2 linked regions of the Homo sapiens genome follow. The protein of the gene in region 1 interacts with the protein of each later gene in a pairwise test. Each region holds a gene or a part of one and is shown in the gene's direction. Other genes may lie near its edges.

The links. The genes of interacting proteins can lie anywhere in the genome.
Region 2: the proteins of SYK (region 1) and MICOS10-NBL1 interact in binary tests that used the Homo sapiens proteins (3 or more experiments, as listed by UniProt).

Annotation. Positions count from the first base shown.
Region 1 is NC_000009.12:90,807,572-90,812,965, forward strand, and holds part of SYK (tyrosine-protein kinase SYK), read left to right. Parts: intron 1-5,394. UniProt on the Homo sapiens protein: Non-receptor tyrosine kinase which mediates signal transduction downstream of a variety of transmembrane receptors including classical immunoreceptors like the B-cell receptor (BCR).
Region 2 is NC_000001.11:19,603,479-19,606,978, forward strand, and holds part of MICOS10-NBL1 (neuroblastoma suppressor of tumorigenicity 1 isoform a precursor), read left to right. Parts: intron 1-3,500. UniProt on the Homo sapiens protein: Possible candidate as a tumor suppressor gene of neuroblastoma. May play an important role in preventing cells from entering the final stage (G1/S) of the transformation process.

The DNA of each region.
Region 1 (5,394 bases):
TCCCAGGCGGGCTGACTCTGGGAATCTGCCCTGCAGTCTTGGAGGGAAGGCACGTCCAGATAGGTTTGATGAGCAACTACAATTGCCAAAGTTAGTTTCTCTGACCTCCAAGATGGGAGAACTTTCTAATATTTTCTTTTAGGAAAGTTGTCCATTGCATAACTGATACACGAGTACATATCCTTTAGTACAGGATTCAGATACAGCGAGCAACAGAAAAGCCCTTCTTAACCTCCACCCTCAGTCCCAGCCCTGCCCCCAGTCCCACTGTTGGGGAGCAGTTGGAGCTCTAACCTCTCTTCTTTCGTCCTGTGCATTCATGTGTGCATGTGTGCACGTCTTCAGAAGATATAATGGTGGGCTGTGTATGTCTTCTTAATACCTTTATCACTCTGGAACTTTCTTTTTATTAATATGTTGGGGTGCGGGGAGGTCTCCATATTCAGTGATTATTGTAATTTTTATGACAGTCCAGAATAGGCATGTCGATTTTTTTTAATTTTTGATATTATAAACAGTGCTGCAATGAATGCACTTTTTCTTTTCATTCTTTCCCTCTCCTTTGCCATTTGCACTGTGTTTTCATGAAACCATCAGGTTAATCTTTATCTCAAGGAAGCCCTTCATCCCTGTCCATCCTGTTCTTCAGTCCATCCACTTAGTTTTCCTATGATTATTTTAGCAAGCAGGTGGTTAATTTCCAAGGAATGTAGTTACTTCTTTGGGATTTTTTTAAGTGATGTATTAGTTTTCTGTGTATTTTATTACTTGTTTGAGTGCACCATTACCCCCGTCTCCCGGGGTATCAGTTCATCTGCTTGCATGCTTGGTGCCTCTCTCTCCTGCTGTCAGCTTTCCTGATGTGCTGGGTATTTCCACGTGTGTGTTGGTTTTTTTTTTTTTTTAGGTACCCTAGGCATTAGTCTTTTAAGGCTGCATTCTTGCAGCCTGTCCCACATGAGATAGGAGGAGGGCAAGACCTGGATGTGCACAGGGCAGGATGGGCCCATAACTGGTCTGTGTGGTGTGTGGGTGGCAGGAACTCCCTGTTCTTTGTGGGTATGGCCATGCCTTCCCTATTCAAACGAAGCCACACACCTGTCTTTTCCTGCGAGGCGTCTTCTGCTGCTTTCTTGGAGCTGGGGAGCATCTACTCTTCCCTTGTCCTCCCGCTCCTCCCTGTTCCTCCCTCAGGTCTCTGTCGCTTCTAAGGCACTCCACCCTTGGTCTTCTCCCACCTTGCACCCCCCACACTGCTGCCTGCCTGCACAGGGGGACTGTGATTGCCCCCTTCAGTGTGAGCCTGACCTGCTTCATGCCTTTCAAGGAGAGCATTCATTGCCAAGCTACTCATGGAACATCTCCTCAGATCCTCAGCGTGCTATGACTTCATTTTCTGTAATACTGTTTTTCATGTTTCTTCCCCTTCTCTGCATTTATAGCTGTGCATATGCTTGAGGTGGAAGGCCACCACTTCCTTTTGGTTAACAACACCAATCAGCTGATGGTCATGGCTACGTGAAGGAACTCACAGTGAGGGCTCAGGAAGAGCCTGGCTAGAGCAGGCTGCATCGCAGGCCTTGGCGTTAGGTTCCCCAAATCACTGCTGGTGATCTTGTAGCTCTGTCATGAAGTCTGTCCTGCTTATTAGGATACCGAGGGTCCAAATTCATAGATTCTTAGAAGCCTGTTTAAATATGCAGAGTATCTAATTCAACCCGATTAGAAACGGGCTCAGAAAGGTGAAGGGATTTGTCCAACCACTGAGTGATGCTGCTGGGATTAGAACTCTCAAAACTAGGTGTTTCTAATCCAGAACCAGAATCCCTATCCACTACTCTAATAAGGCGTAAAAGAGGATCTGCTGTCCTGCCTAATTGGTGGGCAGGTTTGGAGTCCTGTCAGCAGCTCAGGAAAGCCTGGAGAGGCAGAGGGAGGACACAGGCTCAGTGTCAGACATGCCAATTTTACTCATCACCAATGGTTACACAAAACTTGTTTTGATCTTTGTGGCTTTTGCATTGAGAAGTTAAGCATATACAATAGGAATTAGACACAATCCCAAACCAATGAGAGACTCAAGTGAGAAGAGCTGAAGCTTTTATGCATGCCTTCCTTCCATAGAGATAAATTTACTATCCAGAGTGAACTAGAGCCTCGTGGAAAGTGAGTGCCGAGCCCCTAGCTGTGAGTGTCTCTGTCCTTCCCACATCAGACCTCCATGTCTGTGGCTGTCCCCCTACGGGGCAGAACTGCTGCTCTCTGCTTGTGTTGCTGTCGTGAGGGTTGGGAGTGGACAGGTGTGGACAGATCTCAGACCCGTTTCCCTCCTGTTATGGAAATGTTTGTGAGGCAGGTGGGACTTCAATGATTTGGTCAAGGAAAGGCAGCTTGGCAGCTGGGGAGAAGGGCTCAGGCTAGAAAGGCAAGCGTTTGTGAGGGATGATTTCCCCAAAGAAGCCAGCAGTGTGTAAGGTATTCCCCGGAGCTTGTTTCTTCTCAGAAGACTCTGGAAGCTGTGTCAGTGTCTGTTATGGAGGAATGGAGTATCAGTCCGATCAGGCTTTCATAACAAAGCACCACATACTGAACGGCTTGAACAGCCCAATGTGTCGCCTCCCAACTCTGAGCCAAAGAGACTGAGGTCAGGATGTCCCAGGGTGGCTCCTTCCAAGGGTTGGGTGGGACAATGTGCCCCCAGCATCTCCTTGGCTTGTGGGTGACCATCTCCAGCTCCACATGGCATGCTCCCTGTGTGCCTGTCTCTGGGTCCAGATCTCCTTTTCATGTAAGGACACCAGTCATGTTGGAGTAGGGCTCACCCTAAGGACTTCAATGGGGCGTAATCACTGCTGTAAAGACCCTGTCTTTAAATAAGGTCACACTCAGAGGGGTTAGGGAGTTAGGACATCAACATTTGAACTTGGGGGGACACAATTCAACCTGTAACAAATGTGTGAGTGAAGACTGGCACCTCCCCACGATGGCCTTTCTGTGATGCCATCAAGAGCACCAGGGAGCTCTCCAGATATGGAGATGGACAGATGTCTAAGGCCCCTGAAATGAGCCTGCTGTACAGATGATTCCAGAACTCTGTCAGTGTGAAGACCAAACACAATTAAGCACATTAAAATACTTACGGTAAAGTGTTTCTTTCACTTTAGATGTGCAAAAACTTAAAGAGAGAGAGACTTATGAGAAGACTCAGGGAAGAAATGTAAGATAAAGGTGTTAAGGGAGACAAACTCCACAAAATTGTAAAGTGAAGCTGCTGTGGGGAGTAGAGCCCAGACCCAGATAATATGCAGGCATGGGTCCAAGGGAGGCTTTGCACACCAGGCGGGGGAGGTGCAGGGCCATGGATGAATGGTCTTGGGAAAACGGCAAATCGTTTGGAAAAAAAAACAAAACTTTGCTCTTTATATCAAAATAAATTCCAAGCTGAACAAAGAATAAAAATATAGCATTGAAATAATGAAGCTATTAAAAGAAAACTTAGGTGAGTTTTAAAATAATTGTGAAGAGGCCTGTCTAAATGTGATAAAACATATGAATTTATATTCACACTCATCACAAGATTGATAAGCATGATTTCCTAAAATTTTAAGCAAATCCCCATAAAATGAAAAAATATACAAATAAGTGAAAAAAATGGTAAGATATATTTAATTTCAATACTTGTGGTAAAGCATCAATAGCTTTAATATGCAGCGAGTTTTTTCAAATCAATAAGAAAAAAGACACAGATGGGTGCTGACAGGGCCGTTTGGTAATATCTTTTAAAATTTAAAACACAAGTGCTTTCACTCAACAACTTCACTTTTAGGAACCTATCACACATATAAATTGACAAAAGTGGAGAAATATTCATTGCAACATTTTATTTTATAATAGCAAAAAAAAATCACTAAGGGAAGTACAGTTGATTCATATGTTGGAATCCTATGCAGTCTTCTAAAAAATGTGGAATTTATTTCATACACCAAATATAACAATGTCCAAGTTCTACTAGTGAAAAAGCAAGATGTAACATATCATTGTATTTGTTTAAAAAACTCATGCTGGGTTGGGTGCAATGACTCATGCCTGTAATTCCAGCACTTTGGGAAGCCAAGGTGGGTGGATTGCTTGAGCTCAGGAGTTTGAAGCCAGCCTGGGCAATATGGCAAAACCCCACCTCTATGACAAATACCAAAAAAAAAAACTAGCCTGGACTGGTGGTGTGCACCTGTAGTCCCAGCTACATGGGGGCGCTGAGGTGGGGGGATCACTTGAGTCCAAGAGGTCAAGGCTGCAGTGAGCTGAGATCATGCCACTGCACACCAGCCTGGGTGACAGAGCAAGACCCTGTCTCAAAAATAATAAGTGAAAAAAAAAAAAAAAACCTAAAAATCTCCCACATGCACATAATAATTTAAGTGATATTGGATTGTCGTTTACTACTTATACATGCATTTCTGCCTATACATATTCTATCCAGTGTGTACACATGTGTATGTAAATATGTAGCATGATCTGGAAGTGTAAGCACCAAATTAAGAACAGCAGCTTTGGGGGGAGGGGAATAGAATTGGTTTAGAGAAAAAGGTGAAATTAACATTTTTATTCTGCCTACTTCAGTGTGCCTGCAGTATTTACAACGATCAGGAGTGTGTACTTTTTTCAATTTAGAAAAATGATAATAATAAGGTTTGCTTGGGGGGAAAGGGTAAGTAGGATGAGACCAGGAAGAGAAGTAACTTAGAAACACATCATGCATCATGACTGCTGGCACCATTCTGTCCTCCAATGAAGAGCGAGGCTTTGAGAGGTTCAGCAGCTCACCCAAAGGTGTACAGCCATGGTCTCAAACATGCTTGCACCCTGCTGTCACTCAGGTCCTGAAGCCCAGGCCACCTCCAAGGACACTGGGGTGCTCTGGGGTGCAGCCTGCCTTCAGATGTTTCTTAAAGCCACTCCTACTCCACCCCACCCAGTGCAGGAGCCAAGATTGAGGACCACCATTTGACAGCTAGTTCATAGGATTTCATAGCACACAAACACATCTTTAAAGGCTGATGAGGTTTCCACCAAATTGGGATTTATTGGTATGCTGGGTATAATGGCAGCTGTGTGTGCCTTTGACTGCAAAGACACTGGGCAGGCCAGAGTGGCTCCTCCCCATTTGATATGTGTGTGTGTGTGTGTGTGTGTGTGTGTGTGTGTGTGAGAGAGAGAGATTGAGAGAGAGAGGGCTCGTGTTTTTCTGTTGCGAACAGTCCTTTCCACGGGAACTTATATTCTCCTAAGGTTTGCCACTCTGCAGAACTTTTGGAGGAAGGCTTTAGAGTGAGAATGTCAGTGCATTCTCAGCGTGCAACTGTAAGACTTGCAGGAGGTGAATGCACATGAAAT
Region 2 (3,500 bases), on another chromosome or scaffold:
TCCTCAGACTATGGATTTGCCAGAGGACGCTTTGAGGAAAATCTGATTCTGGCACTTCCTGGATTCATACGGAGGTCCTGGGAATCCCTAGTGTGACTTGGATAGCTTTAAAATTGGCTGTGTCCCTTTTCTCTTTGTTTTGCTCCAATGTGAGACCAGAGTAAGGAATATCTAGTCTTACTAATCCATGTATTGGTTTAGAATTCTAGTTTATTCTAATAGAAGTCAGGTTGTATGGCAACTCTGTATTTTAGCATTTGAAGAAATTCATTGAATGGTTAGCTGAAGAGTGACATGGTTGAATTTTTGATTTCAGAAAAATCATTGATGAGAATGAATCAGAGGGCTGGCTGGGATGAAGGCAGGGAGGAGATGTCATGGTGGAGGGAGAGGTCCCAAAGCTGGAGAGTTTCCTGGAAAAGACTGTCCTGGCAAGCCAGGTGTGTCAAGCACAACAGTGATTTCCGTTAGTAGCAAGAAAAAAGGCAAGCCATGGACATTTACAAGGAGCCCCTAGAATGTATTCAATTCAGTGAACTGTAGTGGCATACACAGTCATTTTGTTTTTCTTTTCCTCATTTTTTTCATTCAAAATAAATGTACCAGTAAATACCTCCCAGCCTCAGTTTTCTTATCTATAAAATGATAGTACTTGCCCCAGAGGGTAGTTGCAAGTGAGGATAAAATGAGATAATCTCTAGAGCAGTTAGGACGTTGCCTGTACTTACTAAATATTATTAACTGGAGGCTGAGTGTGGTGGCTCATGCCTATAGTCCCAACACTTTGGGAGGCTGAGGTGGGTGGATCGCTTGAGGCCAGGAGTTTGAGACCAGCCTGGCCAACAATGGTGAAACCCAGTCTCTACTAGACATACAAAAAATTAGCCAGGTGTGGTGGTACGCACCTGTAGTCCCAGCTACTCGAGAAGCTGAGGCATGAGAATCGCTGGAACCCGGGAGTAGCAAGTTGCAGTGAGCTAAGATGCAGCCACTGCACTCCAGCCTGGGCAACAGAGTGAGACTTGGTCTCAAATAAATAAATAAAAACTGGAGGCTGTCGCTGAAGAGTAGAGGTAAAAGAGTTAAAATGATTAACACATTTACCCTGATCTTGGCTATTGTGGGTCGTAGGTGGGTCTTATTGTGGGTCGTGGCTATTGTAGGTCTGATAATCAATATTCATGTTTATATATGTAATAGTAATCATTAATGTGTACTTCTTGAAACAATTTAGTACCAGGTATTGTGGTAAGCCTTGGCAGGGGGTGGCACACAGGTGAATAGGCACTGGCCCTACCCTCGAGGGGCTTACTGCCTTGAGGAATGTGAAAAGGATGAGGGACATTTGACCCCCATTTTGGAAAATATGCAGATATTTAATAGGTGGACCAGGTGGGGGAGTGTGTTTCACTCCTTGAAGGTGTCCCAAAGGAGAGGGATACTTTGGTTCCTTCTGGGAATGATGAGAATGACCATCACTTATTGAGCACTTAACCGCATGCCAGGCACGGTGCTGAGCATGTTATATTTTACATCATTATCTCATATCCTTGTAAGATATTTCTCCATTTTTACAATGGAAGCTCATGGTGGCAGAATCCCTCCTTTAGGATCACAGGCTACAGCTGCAAGGGTAGGAAGGTGAACCCCATTCTTGTAGCTATCACATGTTAATGCAGGAGATTTTATCCTTTGGGGTTAAAGGATTTATGTGGGGAGGGACAAAAGATGAGGCAGGAAAGGTGGAAGGGTGTAGGAAGTTGTGGAGATTTTTTAAACTACTTTGTTGAGATATATTTCATGGCATACATTTTCCTATTTAAAGTGTACAATTTTAGTTTTTTCACCAAATTGTGCAATTATCACAATCTAATTTTAGAATATTTTTAGCTTCCCCCAAAAGAAACACTGGATGCAGCTGCTCCTATTCCCAAACTCTCACCCCAACCTTAGCCCCAGGCAACCACCAATTTACTTTTTGTCTCTGTGGAGTCTCCTATGCTGGACATTTTACATAAAGAGTTATATAATATGTAGTCTTTTGTATCGGCTTCTTTGACTTAGGTAGTGTTTTCAGTATTCATCCATGCTGTTGCATTTATCTGTTCATCATTCTTTTTTGTTACCAAATAATGTTGTGTGGTGTATTTGTACTACATCTTGTTTATCCATTTGTCAGTTGGTGGACATTTAGTTTGTTTACGCTTTTAAATTTTATGAATAATGCTGCTGTGATCAAGTGTACACATTTTTGTTTTGTTTTGAGATGGGGTCTGTTTTGCCCAGGCTGGTCTCAAATTCCTGGGCTCAAGTGATCCTCCTGCCTCAGCCTCCTGAGTAGCTTGGATTACAGGTGCATGCCATGGTGCTCAGCCCCCCAGTTTTTATGTGGACATGTTTTCATCTCTCTTGGATATATACCTAGGAGTGGAATTGCTTGGTTGTGTGGCAATTCTATGTTTAGCATTCGAAGAAATTCATTGAATGGTAAGCTGAAAAGTGACGTGGTTGAATTTCTGATTTCAGAAAGATCACTGATGTGATGAGAATGAATAACTCTCTGGAGTGCTAGGATGTGGGGGCAGGGAGCTAGCTTAGTATATTATTGCAAAATCTTGCCAAAGATGAGCTGATCAAATGAGAGGAAGCATGAACTAAGAGGGGAGCAGCAGGAGTGGAAAAGAGAGATATAATGATGCTAGTACAGAGTTTATATTTACAGAACTTGAAATGCAGGCTCAGGAGTGGGAGGAGTCAGGTGGTGCCAAGCCTACATAAATGAGCATGGTGTTGCTTTTGACAAATAGGAGAGGCAGAGAGGGGAATAACATTTTGTAGTTTCTTAATTTCTAGTATGTCTTGAGATAGGTCTCTAATTATATGCAGCTCAGTTAACAGATGAAAGTTATTGGTTTATCATGCATTCATCTTTATGAAAAGAAAGGATTCGGCCTTGCTTCTTCCTTGTTACGAAAGTATGGCCAGGGCTGGGCACGGTGGCTCACACCTGTAATCCCAGCGCTTTGGGAGGCTGAGGAGGGTGGGTCACCTGAGGTCAGGAGTTTGAGACCAGCCTGGCCAATATGGTGAAACCCCATCTCTACTAAAAATATAAAAATTGGCTGAGTGTGGTGGCGCATGCCTGTAATCCCAGCTACTCAGGAGGCTGAGGCAGGAGAATCACTTGAACCTGGGAAGGTGAGGTTGCAGTGAGCCAAGATCAGGCCATTGCACTCCAACCTGGGCGACAGAACAAGAAGGCTCTGTCTCCAAAAAAAAAAAGAAAGAAAAAAAGTAGGACAGTAAAAGACTTAGAAGCTGACTTGCCTTAGAATTAAAGTTAACCAGCAGATTTTGTGTATTCATTCAATAATCAAGTCTAGTTAAATTGTTTGAAGCCATTTTAATGTTTAAAAAAATACTAAAAGAGGCCATTGAATAGTCATGGAAAAAGAAAGCAAATTATTGTTTTTCTTTAAGTATCAGTTCATCTGATAGAT